2 linked regions of the Homo sapiens genome follow. The protein of the gene in region 1 purifies or fractionates together with the protein of each later gene. This does not show direct contact. Each region holds a gene or a part of one and is shown in the gene's direction. Other genes may lie near its edges.

Region 1 (7,345 bases):
TGAGTGGTTGCCAGGCGCTGAGGGGACTGGGTAATGGAGTGTAAATCAGAAGTAAAATGCTAAGCCCCCTCAGCCAACTGAGTGGACCCTTCCTCAGCTAAGGGCATTCCCAAGTTAACCTGAAAAACTAGTTCAGACCATGATGGGGAGTGGGGGTCAGAGGTCAGACGTGTCTCCCACCTTCCTCCTTTTGGAATTCAGATACAGCTGACCAGCATTAACATTAAAACAAATCTTTTTTTTTTTTTTTGAGGCGGAGTCTCGCTCTATCACCCAGGCTGGAGTGCTCACTGCAACCTCCGCCTCCCAGGTTCAAGCAATTCTCCTGCCTCAGCCTCCCAAGTAGCTGGGATTACAGGCATGTGCCACCATGCCTGAGTAATTTTTGTATTTTTAGTAGAGACAGGGATTCTTTCATGTTGTCCAGTCTGGTCTTGAACTCCTGACCTCAGATGATCCACCTGCCTCGGCCTCCCAAAGTGTTGGGATTACAGGCGTGAGCCACCGCACCTGACTAAAACAGATCTTAAGGCTGATGAAACAGACTTTTTGTAGCAATAAGACACCAAATTCCAAACTAACTCTAGTATAGCATCAGGACAGATAGCAGGTCCTGAATGAAATTAAAGTATTTTACCCCCAAATGTATTTCTTTGACTTATTTTGAAATGGCCCTGCAAAGCTGTCTCTTGTGAGGAAACATCTGCATTCTGTAGAGAATCCCCTTCCCTTTCCAGGCCTTTTCCTGATCCAGGAGAGAATTAACTAAGACTCTGGCATCTTTTTAGGTCTGCGAAGAGCTCTGAAGCCTGCCACCTGGCGGCCTCTGCGTGATGAGACCTTGGTCTCCACAACAGCTCATCTTTTTTTTTTGAGACGGAGTCTCCCTCGGTCGCCCAGGCTGGAGTGCAGTGGCGCAATCTCGGCTCACTGCAAGCTCCGCCTCCCGGGTTCATGCCATTCTCCTGCCTCAGCCTCCCGAGTAGCTGGGACTACAGGCGCCCACCACCACACCCACCTAATTTTTGTATTTTTAGTAGAGACGGGGTTTCACCGTTTTAGCCAGGATGGTCTCGATCTCCTGACCTCGTGATCCGCCTATCTCAGCCTCCCATAGTGCTGGGATTACAGGCATGAGCCACTGCGCCCAGCTAACCGCTCATCTTAACCCGACATTCCTTTCTACTGATTCCAGGTCTTTAGATAAACTCTTTTGACCAACTGCCAATCAGAAAATTTTTGGAATCTACCTATGATCTGGAAACTGCCTTCCCTACTCCCACCTCAAGTTGTCCCGCCTTTCCAGACGGAACCAATGTACATCCTACATGTATTGATTTATGTCTTAAGTCTCCCTAAAATGTATAAAACCAAGCTGTACTCTGACCACGTTGGGCACATAGGATCTCCTGGGGCTGTGTCACGAGCCATTTGTTACTCATACTTGGCTATAAATCTCTTTTATAGCCAAATATATAAATAGTATAGTATAGTATAGTATAAATCTCTTCAAATATTTTACAGAGTTTGACTGTTTTCATTGACAGGGGAGTGATTGCTCACAGGTATGGGATTTCTTTTGGGGTGGTGAAAATATTCTGGAATTGGATAGTGGTGATGGCTGTATAACTTTATGAAAATACTAAAAAAACCACTGAATCATACACTTCTCAAACTCCTGAGCTTAGGTGATCCACCCGCCTCGGCCTCCCAAAGTGCTGGGATTCCAGGCGTGAGCCGCTGCACCCAGCCTGAATCATACACTTCTAAAAGGTACATTTTATAATATGTGAATTATATCTCTATTTTATTTTATTTTTTGTTTCGAGACAGGGTCTCACTCTGTTGCCCAGGCTGGAGTGCAGTTGTGCTATCTCAGCTGACTGCAACCTTCACCTCTCAGGCTCAAGCAATCCTTCCACCTCAGCCTCCCGAGTAGCTGGAACTACAGACATGTGTCACCATGACTGGCTAATGTTTGTATTTTTTGTAGAGATGGGGTTTTGCCATGTTGCCCAGGCTGGTCTGGAACTTCTGGACTCTAGCAATCCACCTGCCTCTGCCTCTCCCACTGCTGGGATTACAGGCGTGAGCCACTGTGCCTGGTCACATATCTCAATTGTAAGCATTGAGAGTGGTTCTCTTCTTGAGGGTGGGCCAGCCAGTGGCTTTGCTCCCTAGTTCTAGCCTGAAGCCTCTGTTCTCTCCCTTGCCCCATCTTCTCTCTAAGGCATGAGCCACCAGTTCTGGTCACACTCACCTCATGGAGCCCATCAGCCCGGTTTCCTAGGCCTTAGGCTGGACCCCTACTCAACCCCAAAGGCCTGGTGTGTGTCTTGCCTTGTGATTCCTCCCGAAGACGTCTCTGTCTTGTTTTCCCTCTAGAATGTCTTTATAGATGTCCTCAGCTGGCCGGGCGTGGTGGCTCATGCCTGTAATCCCAGCACTTTGGGAGGCTGAGGCGGGAGGATCACCTGAGGTCAGGAGTTCGAGACCTGCCTGACTAACATGGAAAAACCCCGTCTCTACTAAAAATACAAAAGTAGCTGGGCATGGTGGTGCATGCCTGTAATCGGGAGCTTGAGGCAGGAGAAGCACTTGAACCTGGGAGGCGGAGGTTGCAGTGAGCCGAGATCTCGCCATTGCACTCCAGCCTGGGCAACAAGAGCGAAACTCCATCTAAAAAAAAAGAAAAAAAAAAAAAGATTTCCTCAGCTAAACTTCTTCTCTCCTTTCCTCCCACATTGTGTAGAGAAGGCCAGCCATTGTAATCCATACAGAAATTTTGGCCCTGAGGACATTTTAAATACAAACATTTTAAACTGAATTATACCAACTCTGCTGAATTTCCATCAAGGACACTTTCCAGAGCCCACTCTATGGAGCTTAAATAAATCCTTGATCAATTTTCCAGAGAACACTGTGAAACTGCACAGTTCTCCATTTTCATTTTTACTTGTTATCATATTTGATTCTTTCCTGCTGACATTTTCTAACAGCGTTTCAGCATAGGCCTCCCGATACCTATCAAGGCCTGTGTCCTTGGATTATAATTTGGTGATTCTATCACCAAGCCATGAATCTCCCACCGAAGTTCAGGGAATAGCACATTTTTTCCTTGTGCAGCTTTTGCCCTTCTCAGTTTTATTTTCTCACATCGTCCTAATATTAACGTTCACTGTGGTTGAATGAAAGACTGATAGATTACATTTATTTCTCAAAGAAGCTAAGTTTTAAATAGATAACGCATGCATGTGGTAGAAAAATGAGAGCAGTACAAAAGGGTGCACAAAGGCAAACCTTGCCCCTCTTGCTGGCCTCTTGCCCACTTGCCCTCTGCAAAGGCTGTGTCTCAGACGGGGTGCCCAGGACGCCGGCTCTGACACGGAGACCCACGGCAGGCAAGAGCCTCTGGGGGAAAGGGAGGAGCAGCAGAGAAAGAGGCGGCTGTAATGCAGTCTCAGGGAAGGCCCAGCCGCCCGGAGGGAGCTCCGGAGCCGCACTGTTCCTGGTCAGGAGTTCAGGAAGAGGGTCTTCAGGCTCTGAGTGGACCAATCATCAAGCAGCCCTTCTTGGGTATGACCTGGGGCAGATTCTTCATCTGGGAACAACTGGCCCATCCTCCCCAGGCCAGGGCCCTGCAGCCAACACTCCCCAGAGCTGCGGGATGCATCCTCCTAAAGGGACCTAGGCAGCTTAGCCCGAAAATCACTGTCACCCACTGTCCCCAAGTTACCTCTGTCCCCTCCCTACCCTTTTTAGCTGAAGACTTATTTTTAATTGTTATTTTCTTAGACCTCTGGAGCACCCCACGCCCCCAGCCTGGGTTAGCTGTCAGGAGCCCCTGTCTCTTCCTTTCCCACTGCAGCGCCGCCCCCTCGCTGCCTCAGGGGGAGCCCACGCAGCAGCGGGGGCAGACGGGCCTCAGCCTCAGGCAGCCTGGGGAGCAGAGCCTTAGAAGCCATGCTTTTTCTTTTTCCTTTTCTTTGAAACAACTTTCTAGGGCTCTGGAGTTATAAAAAGCTCCCATGTGTCACTTTCTGGCATTTGGGCAGCTGCCGAATGCCACCCGGCCTGCACTGCTGTCCTCCCGAGGTTTGCCCCTGGATTGATGGGCTGGGTTTGGCAAAAGCAGCTGGAGGTTATCGAAAATCTGTTGTAAGGAGCATTGTTAACTTAGAATAAAAATCGAATCCAAAACACGCTTTTGCAATACCCCCTCCCGATATCCACCGAGGCAAAGGCAGAATTAAGAAGCAGGGTCTTGAGATGTAGGAAAGGAGAATGAACCCCACGCGGGAAGAGGACAGGCCGCCCTGACTTTGGTCCACTCAGCCAGGGGGTGAGCACCACCTGTCTTGGTGAATGACTCTGAGCCCATCTCAGGTGTGGCTGCAGGTGACACATCTTCTCTTCCTGTCCACCCCCCAGCCCCATGGCGTCCCTTCCTGTCCTGCAGAAGGAGAGCGTGTTCCAGTCGGGAGCCCATGCCTACAGAATCCCTGCCCTGCTCTACCTGCCTGGGCAGCAGTCCCTGCTGGCCTTCGCGGAACAGCGGGCAAGCAAGAAGGATGAGCACGCAGAGCTGATTGTCCTGCGCAGAGGAGACTACGACGCACCCACCCACCAGGTTCAGGTGAGGCAGGAGGTGTCTGCACTGGCTCCCCAGGGCTCTGCCACACCCTTTGCTGCTGTGATCAGGGGCCAGTCCTGGATCTCAAGAAATACAGGGACAACTTTATCCCTCAATGGCTGTACTCCGGAGGAGAGATAGAGCAGAGAAAGTGCCCCTAATGGTTCCCTGGACCTCTGGGTTCACTGTGAATTAGTCCAGCTGGCCTCCATCTGTTTTCATGAAAGATTGAATGAGTTGCCCAGCATCCGTGATGACCTCACGGAGGAATAGTTCAGTGTTGCATAATGGAGGGTTGTGTCCTTTGAGTAAAATTAACTTGGGGACTTGGGGTGGGGTGATGGCTTGTGTCCTAAAGTCCCATTTTATAGATTAAATAATTAATCCTGATGACAGCACCCAAGGCTGGCTGATCATATTTGAAGAGTTTAATATTATTATCATTCCTTTGTGGTCATTACTACACAGCTGTTCAAAGCATGGGATTTGAAGCAGATGGACCTGGGTTCAAGTCCTGGTTCCGCCACTGACCACAGATGTGGCCTAGGCAACTCCTCCTCCCTGTCGCGGTCTCTTGCTCACTGTAATAATGGAGCTACTAACACCTGTTCCCTGGGGATTGAGGCATTAGATGAGACCATGGATGTTAGACTTTTGGTGCTGTGTCTGTGCTTAGAATTGCCCAATGGGGGTAGCTGTTAATAAATGGGGACAGACAGCACATGTGACATAGACTTGGGGATTCTGGAAGCTCAATGTGACTCCTCCTTGGCTACATGAGTAGGATATGGAGTGTAGAAGGTGAGAGGTGACCGTCACATTCTGTCTTGTACTGGTCAGGTTATTGCACCTTCCGCCAGGGCTTTGCTATTCAAGGATGGTGAGCTGGACTGGGGTGGGAAGTGGAGGAACCAGGATGAAGTTGGGAATGGCTCATGCACGAGTCATCTTCATATCTTGTGGTCTGGCAGGTGGGTGTTCTGTAAATGCATATTGATGGCAATGGAAGGAACAGAATCACTCAGCCGAGTGTGGCTGCCTTGGAGGGGTGAGGTGGCACCCTGGGCCCCGCAGCTCTGGGGAAACGTTGCAAGGAGGATATGAGTGTTGGGTGAAGAGTTCTTCTCGATGACTTTTGACTCTAACCCGGGAGACACACCCGTGCCCACCCCTCCCACTCATGCAGCTCCTGGCACCATCCCCAGCTGTTTCAAGGCTGCCTTCTTCTTTCTCTCTCCCTACTCAGTGGCAAGCTCAGGAGGTGGTGGCCCAGGCCCGGCTGGATGGCCACCGGTCCATGAACCCATGCCCCTTGTATGACGCGCAGACGGGGACCCTCTTCCTCTTCTTCATTGCCATCCCTGGGCAAGTCACGGAGCAACAGCAGCTGCAGACCAGGGCCAATGTGACGCGGCTGTGCCAAGTCACCAGCACTGACCACGGGAGGACCTGGAGCTCCCCCAGAGACCTCACTGATGCGGCCATCGGCCCAGCCTACCGGGAGTGGTCCACCTTTGCAGTGGGCCCGGGGCATTGTTTGCAGCTTCACGACAGGGCCCGGAGCCTGGTGGTGCCCGCCTACGCCTACCGGAAACTTCACCCCATCCAAAGGCCGATCCCCTCTGCCTTCTGCTTCCTCAGCCATGACCATGGGCGCACGTGGGCGCGAGGGCACTTTGTGGCCCAGGACACCCTGGAGTGCCAGGTGGCCGAAGTCGAGACTGGGGAGCAGAGGGTGGTGACCCTCAACGCGAGAAGCCACCTCCGAGCCAGGGTCCAGGCCCAGAGCACCAATGACGGGCTTGATTTCCAGGAGTCTCAGCTGGTGAAGAAGCTGGTGGAGCCGCCGCCCCAGGGCTGCCAGGGGAGCGTCATCAGCTTCCCCAGCCCCCGCTCGGGGCCTGGCTCCCCAGCCCAGTGGCTGCTCTACACTCACCCCACACACTCCTGGCAGAGGGCCGACCTGGGTGCCTACCTCAACCCGCGACCTCCAGCCCCTGAGGCCTGGTCAGAGCCGGTACTGCTGGCCAAGGGCAGCTGTGCCTACTCAGACCTCCAGAGCATGGGCACCGGCCCTGATGGGTCCCCCTTGTTTGGGTGTCTGTACGAAGCCAATGATTACGAGGAGATTGTCTTTCTCATGTTCACCCTGAAGCAAGCCTTCCCAGCTGAGTACCTGCCTCAGTGAGCCTGTGGTGCCCACCTCAAGGGCCTGCCTTTCACCTGCACACCCAGCTCGGAGGCTCTGCGGCTGCCTCTCCTTCCCGTGGCCCCTGGACGTGGGGGCCACTCTGGGCTCCCTTCGGCGCCCGTGTGTGGAGAGAGGTGCACCTCTTGCTCTTTTCCTCCTGCGTGGTTCCAGTCTTCCCAAAAGGTTCTATTTTCAGCCCAGAAACCAAAAGTGTCTGGCTTCCCATAGCCCCTCCATAGGGAAGGCGTGGAGGGTCCTGCAGCGCAGCTGTCACCTTGTCTGCCTGTCCCCTACCCCCAGCTTTGTGTAGGTCTTGACAAATTTCTAGTTCAACTCCTTCCTTCTTGGGAACCATTCCTTATGTTCCTGGGGAAGAACTGAGATGGAAGACCATGGTGTAAATTAGCAGAGATGTGTGTGTATCTGTGTGTGTCTGCATGTGCACGTGTGTTCGTGTGTGTCTATATGTGTCTCTGTGTGCATGTGTGTTCGTGTGTGTCCATGCATACGTGTTTGTGCGT
Region 2 (7,029 bases), on another chromosome or scaffold:
ATAAAAAAGGGAGCGGCCAGGCGCCGTGGCTCATGCCTGTAATCCCAGCACTTTGGGAGGCTGAGGTGGGCGGATCACAAGGTCGGGAGTTCGAGACCAGCCTGACCAACATGGTGAAACCCCGTCTCTACTAAAAATACAAAAAAAATAGGCAGGCGTGGTGGTGCGCGCCTGTAATGCCAGCTACTTAGGAGGCTGAGGCAGAAGAATCGCTTGAACCTGGGAGGCAGAGGTTGCAGTGAGTCGAGATCGCACCACTGCACTCCAGCCTGGGCCACAGAGTGAGACTCCTTCTCAAAACAAACAAACAAACAAAAAACAAGAAGGGAGCATAGAGCCTCAAAGGTTGAGCTCACTGCTTTCATCACTTTGTTTTCCACCTGAAAAATCTTAATTTGCTTCTGTTGGAACAAAGGATAAAATAGAAACTCCTTACCCAGATTGCCAAATCCATACATGATCTTAGCCCAGGGAGATCCATGGACTCTCACTGTTCCCGTATGGTTGCTCCATTCTACTAAGTTATCTCTTTGCTTTCCCCGAGGCTTGCTCTCCAACTTCTTAACTTAAAAGGGCCCCCTATAGCGTGAAGGCTTTCCTGATGCCTCCAGTGCAGAAATTAATAATAGTTACTGTGTGCCAGGTGCTTCCTGTGAACCTGTAAAACAAGAAACAGGTAGCAGGCTTCTACCTTGTCCTTTCTGCTCATTTGTGTTTTGTTTTTATAAGTGTCTTCTTAGTACAGAGATGGAGGTTTTTCTATTTTGCTCATCTAAGGAATCAGAGATGATGTGGAAAACCAACTGCCTCACTGTTATCTGAGATCAGTAATTTGGAAGCATATTTTGCTTTGAATGACTTTTTCTGATTGAGTTAGGGGTGAGATGAAGAATGTGATAATTTTTTAAAATCATGGCATTTATTTTTTAAAATCTTAATATATTAAACAATACAGTTTCAGATACAAAAAAAATTACTGCAATAAAACAGTTGAGGTGTATTTCCATTGTGCTTCCCTTCCTTATCAGGAAAGTACATTGTCCACTGAGAGACAGGATGGATGGCCTCTCCCAGCTCTACACAAAGCACAAGCCTACTGGCTCTCCTGGGCCTTGGTTAATACATGGAACAGGCTATGTTTTCTAAAATGTTGTAGCAACACTCATAAGTCAACCATGGTTCAAAAAGTCAACCATGGTTCAAATCACATATTTACATATTGATCAATTCTTTATGATAGACAGACATAAATGAGATACAGTAAATAATTTCCAGTTGTTAAAAAAAAAAAAAAAACAAGTACAGGCGACAAACTTGGTCATGGTACACAAATATACTTCATGTGTACAGACAGCTTCATTCAGGTCTAATTTTTTTTTAATTTTTGTTTTAGGTTAGGTATATTTGCAGGTTTGTTATATAGGTAACTTGTCTGTCACGGGGGTTTGGTATACAGATTATTTCATCACCCGGCTAATAAGCATAGTACCCGATAGGTAGTTTTTCCGTCCTCACCCCCGTCCCGTCCTCCACCCTCCATTATTCAGGTATAATTTTAATTTGAAAGACCTAGATATACTATTATTTAAGTGATAATGGCCTCTAAGATTTATTCAGATTACTATCAAATAATAAATTAAACAAATCCACTATAATTTAAAACTCTGTCCATTGCTTGAAACCTTGGAGGAGCCTATGCTACAATCAGTTGCTAACTAAAAGCAATTGTACGTGTATTTGATATTTCCCCACAGTTTCTACCTCTAGATTTAATTCAGTAAAGGAAGATGATATTTGAAGATGAAGTAGCACTTGTGTCCTGAGCATCTCTCAGGCACTACTGCATGGAATGGCAAAGGGGATGCAAGAAGCACATCAGATGACAACGGTCTTAGACGCTTACAAGTCTGCTAAGGTGACTGACAAGGGAATCAAAGAAGGCAGTCATGTCATGGACCTATCAGCAGCATAGCTGGGCAACCCTGGAGCTGAATCTGGCCCTCAGACTTGTTTAAATTGCCCAGTGTTTTTAAAGACACTGAATTAATTGCGAAAATTTATAACTCAGGAAATTTCACATAAAAATCCCACTTGTCAGCTTCCCTGGAAAACCCAGAAGAGGGGGCAGCACTGGGGGAACAGTGATCTGAAATGGCTCATTGGCAGAGCAGCCACCACCTTTCTGCAGGCCCCTGGTTCTGCATGGGTCCCTCTCCTCCCTGTGCTGCACCCAGCCCACACCTCTCACTTATGCTACTTGCTGGTGTTTGTGACCCCTACAGTATAGTCAGGGTGCCATATAATCAGGACAGGAAATATTAGGATTTCAGAAGGAATAGAGCTTACCTTGGAGAGCAGAGTATAGTGGAAAGAATAGGGCTTTAGAGCCGGGCCAATCTACATTCAAATGCTAGCCTGCCCTCCTGCTAGCTTTTGCCTTAGAGAAATATTTTCCCTCCAGCTCCCTTTGCTTATGATAAAATGGATAATATCACCTTCCTTGCCTCCCTTACAAGGTTGTAGTGAGGATTAGCAATAACGGATATAGAGTGCCTGATGTGCCTGGCACCTGAGCACATGCCATCGTAGATCTTGTGGAAGAAGTCTGGCAGGATGCTTTGGTTTAAGTACCTGGAAACTGTTATAAAAAGAAGCATGGAAAAAAAAGAATAACCCAACCACCACCAAAAAACAAACTCCATGTAGATTAAAGAGTTAAATCTAAAAAATGTAAACTCTTAAAAAAAAAACTAAAAGGAAATACAGTTGTATATTTAACTTTCCTCAGGATGGGAAAAGACTTTCTAAGCATAAAAATCATGAAGACGAGCCAAAGAAAGGTCAGTAGAGTTGACTCTAAAATTTTTGAGCTATTCCATGTTAAATACCATAAGTACAGTTAAAAGGCAAATAGCAAATGAGAAAAGCATTTGCAAAAAGTATGACAAACAAATGCCTTAATATCTGTGGTTGTAGATCAATAAGAAAACAGTGTTAACACCCCCATAGAACAATGGACAAAGGACATGAACAGAGAGTGTTCACAGCAGAAGAAACACAAACAGCAAACAGAATGAAAAAAAAAAAGTTGAACTTGGGCTGGGTGTGGTGGCTCACACCTGTAATCCCAGCACTTTGGGAGGCCAAGGCAGGTGGATCACTTGAGCCCAGGAGTTCAAGACCAGCCTGGCCAACATGGTGAAACCCTATCTCTACTAAAAATAAAAAAAAATTAGCCAGGCATGGTGGCAGGCACCTGTAATCCCAGCTACTCGGGAGGCTGAGGCACAAGAATCGCTTGAACCCAGGAGGTGGAGGTTGCAGTGAGCCGAGATCACACCACTGCACTCCAGCCTGGGTGACAGAGTGAGACTCTGTCTCAAAAAAAGAAAAAAAAAAAAAAAAGAACTTGGCTTGTAATCCAAGATCTCTAAGTTTGAATGAGTTGTCATTTCTCCCCTAATTGTTTTTCGTTACTGTCAGTTGATAATGTTCAGCCAGAAGATAGGTACTGTCATGTTTTCCTGGTGAGATTATAGATTGCTGCAGCCTTCTCAAGAAAGCAGTTTGGTAATATAAATCAAGTGCCTTAAAGTTCATACACTTGGCTCCAGTAATTCCATTTTTTAAGAATATATCCTAGAAATATATGCAGAAATGTTTTGCCCAAAAATCTGCTTGCAGCAGCTTTTTATTTATTTTCCCTCTTTTTAAAAAAAAATACTGGTGTATGAAAATCAATCTCCAACCATGTGCTCCTTACTGCTCCATCCTTAGTACTAGCATAATGCCTGATATATACAGGTGGTCAAAAGGTATTTGTGAGTTTAAAGGAAGGATATGTTCATACAAAGGAATATTCTATAACCATATTTTTGAAATGTATATTTAAAGATATAGAAAAATGCTCAATAAAATATTAAAAATGGAGTACACACGATTGTATATCTGGAAGACTCTGTGTGTATGTTGTATAAACTCTGGATGATAGGATTACAGGCGATTTTCTACATTTTCTGTGTACTCTTCCTCAGTCATTCAGTACATATTTATTCATATGTGTGATAGGCACTGAGAATGTTTCTTAACAGGAAGACCACATAAACTTTCCCTCATGGAGTTTATAAGAGCAGAGGTTGAATAAATAATTACAAGTGCATCATTTACTTTAGTAAACTTATGTTACTTTTTATATTCTAGAAGGAAAACCTGTATGATGATTTTAAAGCATTGATGATTGTTTGTAATTTCTAAGACATTCTTTTAGGACAAGAAAGGGATGATTTTAAGAAAACTCCAAATCTCATACAGTATGAATTACCTTTCCAATGGAAAGAAAAATGTTTAGGTTTCCCATCTGTTGGATGGTTAATAATGACATAACAGTAAATACATCCAGATTTTTTCACCCCAAATAGCATTTTCTTAAAGGAAACTGAATAGGATATGTTGGTGAGGTGGAGGTAAGAGTTGTGAGAAGCTTTAGAAAAGCATAATTAAGCCTTCAAATGAACTGGCTGCGGTTGGAGGAATGAGAATGTTGATCAGCATTAATATAAAAATACATGTTTTTCGCTTTTTCCATGTACTCGTAGGGTTTCAAGTATTTGGAAAACCAAGAACATCAATAACAAAACCCACCCTGTAGCTTGAGTGTGACCCTAAAAGCTGCTTTTAACCAGGATGAGTGATGGAAAATTTTATCCTTAGCCCTGGTTTTGGGGGGTGTGTTTTGTTTTGTTTTGAAGAAAACCCTGAGTAAATCAAAAGGGCTACAGAGATGTGTTTGGGTAACTTAACCACGCTTAATGACTAGGAAGGCACTCTTCTAAACAGTCTGACCTGTGTTTCCACTGTTGCTTATCCATTTATCAACTGGAGCCTTTATGCACAGCCATGTGGGTTCCTCTGGCCTTTTATCTGACTCCTAAGTGGAAACAGTCTCCATGCATCTTGCTTCAGTTGAAGGGCATCTTGCTTCAGTTGAAGGGTGGCTCTATGGTCTGTTGCCACTCTGGCCTCGAGGGAAGGATGCATTTGTGAGCTCTGTGTTGCATTAGTAGGATCCCTTGCCCTCTTTCCTGTCTGTCTCCTTCTGCAAATTAGGAATGCATCTTCTAAGTCAAAGATCTTAGAAGGAATAAATAACAAGCAGCAAAGAATGATATCACTTCTCACAGAGGGTACACTGTGTAAGGGTGTCTCCTTTGTGGACTGATTCGAGTGGCTCCCTCCCAAACGAAGGCTCACCCTTGTCTGCTTTTTGGTATGGCTAATGGTTATGTTGAATGTAATGTGTTCAAAACCAACCTGAGACTTTCTCTCATTTGAAAAGTTCAGATCTTAGGAACAGTATGTGAAATGTGATCATTGAACATCACTTTCCATCAGTGCTGATACATTTCGGAATTCTCTTTCACTTGTGAGGTGGATTCCTGCTTCATGTTTCCAGGTGGAACTATAGTGTTTACCTATTCTCTTCCACTGATCTAGCACCTCCTTCTCCCCAACAGTGTTTTTAATGTTCTAGGAGATCTTCATCTCAGAATTGCCTTCATGTTGTGGTTAAGTGTCTTTCCTTTCTACTTTATTTTATTCTCCTTAGTGTCTGTACTTGATTTGTAGATTAAGCCCATGTTGCACTCTCTGATTATGTAGAGGGTAGCAGAAATTCTTCTGCTTCTAGCTGTGTTGAACCTTGATCTGATAGCTGACTATACAGCCTAAATTAAGGAGCCTTGGACTGTCTAATCTCATGGTCAGTGCACTCCCTCCGGATATCTTTTCCCCAGTAGGACCATGTGTCTCCTCTGTCTGGATTTTTTTTTTAAATCAGAGCAGCGTTTTGCTTTTCTGAGATGGAGCTGGGCTGCAGTGAGGGCAGGGTCACCTTCCCACTGCCCTCTGGTTGTCTGAGGGGTCAAAGGTAAATGTTTTGGTGCCCACTTATTACTGGAAGAGAAAAGGTGGCAGACACAATTAAAATCAATCACTGAAACCAAAGTTATTTTAAACATTGCTTCTATCTTCTGTCTATAAAAATTATGACTATGCTTGACAAAGTTACTGCCAAAAGTTGGGGCCTGGAACTTAGACTGTTTATGCAAGTTCATGATTGTTTTGATTTTGATTTTCCTAGGGAAAATCTTTGTAAACAGTTAAGTTCTCAGAAGCACCCATACAGTAATAAACATAAACACAGTTTGCACTGAAATCAATCCTGCAGTAACCCAAATGTAACCCTTTCTACCGGAAGTGAAGCAGATGAATGAATAGACCCATCAGTTCTGCCCAGAATGGAGGTGAAGAAATCAGGAAGCTCAGATCTGTCCCAGTCTCAGCACTTGACATGCTCTTTGTTGCTGTGAGCACAGAAGTTGTTTAATGCTCCTGGTTTTCAGCTGTGGAGGAGCCACACTACCAGTTAATTGCTTTGCAGCTTATGCTCTGAAGACTCCTGAGAATATTGGACATAAATTGCTTTTGAGCTCTCTGTGTAAATACAAAGCATTTGTATCCTAAGTGTACAGGAGTCGTGATCCATCCTCAAAGATGTAAACAGCCAATCTCAGTTTGACAGCACTGTTTTGGTCAAGCCAGAGCTCCCTTTGAGAAAATCTTGCTGTTGTCTGTTCTGGAAAGAGGCAGGAATATGTCTCCAAAACTCCATAGTAGCCATGAGAAGAATTGAGACTATAGGTGCCAATTAGTAAATTAGCATACATTGTGAAAAGGTGAAGGAAGTCATCGCATCAAATCTTGGTTAAAAGGACATTTTTCCCACACTGAGTATGTCAAAATGTAGAGCACAACATCAGTCAGATGTAAAGAATTCTTGTACAGGTGACTTTTATTTCCTTCTTAGGCCAGAATGGGCTTTTCTGCATTTTGGATTATGATGATGACACTAATAGCTAGCACTTACTGCATGCCAATCTTCAAGGGATTTACACATATTCTATCAATGGAGGCTCACCATAGCCCTAGGTGGCAGTCACTGTCATCCTCCCCATTTTACAAATGAGTAAG

Evidence for each region. Proteins that work in one complex are often made in the same cells at the same time.
Region 2: the proteins of NEU2 (region 1) and ALKBH3 purify together in Homo sapiens (affinity purification with mass spectrometry; 3 studies listed by BioGRID and IntAct, with this or other methods). This does not show direct contact.

What each region holds. Positions count from the first base shown.
Region 1 is NC_000002.12:233,028,237-233,035,581, forward strand, and holds NEU2 (sialidase-2), read left to right. Parts: upstream 1-4,435; coding exon 4,436-4,636; intron 4,637-5,879; coding exon 5,880-6,821; downstream 6,822-7,345. UniProt on the Homo sapiens protein: Exo-alpha-sialidase that catalyzes the hydrolytic cleavage of the terminal sialic acid (N-acetylneuraminic acid, Neu5Ac) of a glycan moiety in the catabolism of glycolipids, glycoproteins and oligosacharides.
Region 2 is NC_000011.10:43,911,827-43,918,855, forward strand, and holds part of ALKBH3 (alpha-ketoglutarate-dependent dioxygenase alkB homolog 3), read left to right. Parts: intron 1-436; exon of another isoform or gene 437-658; intron 659-4,842; exon of another isoform or gene 4,843-5,095; intron 5,096-7,029. UniProt on the Homo sapiens protein: Dioxygenase that mediates demethylation of DNA and RNA containing 1-methyladenosine (m1A). Repairs alkylated DNA containing 1-methyladenosine (m1A) and 3-methylcytosine (m3C) by oxidative demethylation. Has a strong preference for single-stranded DNA.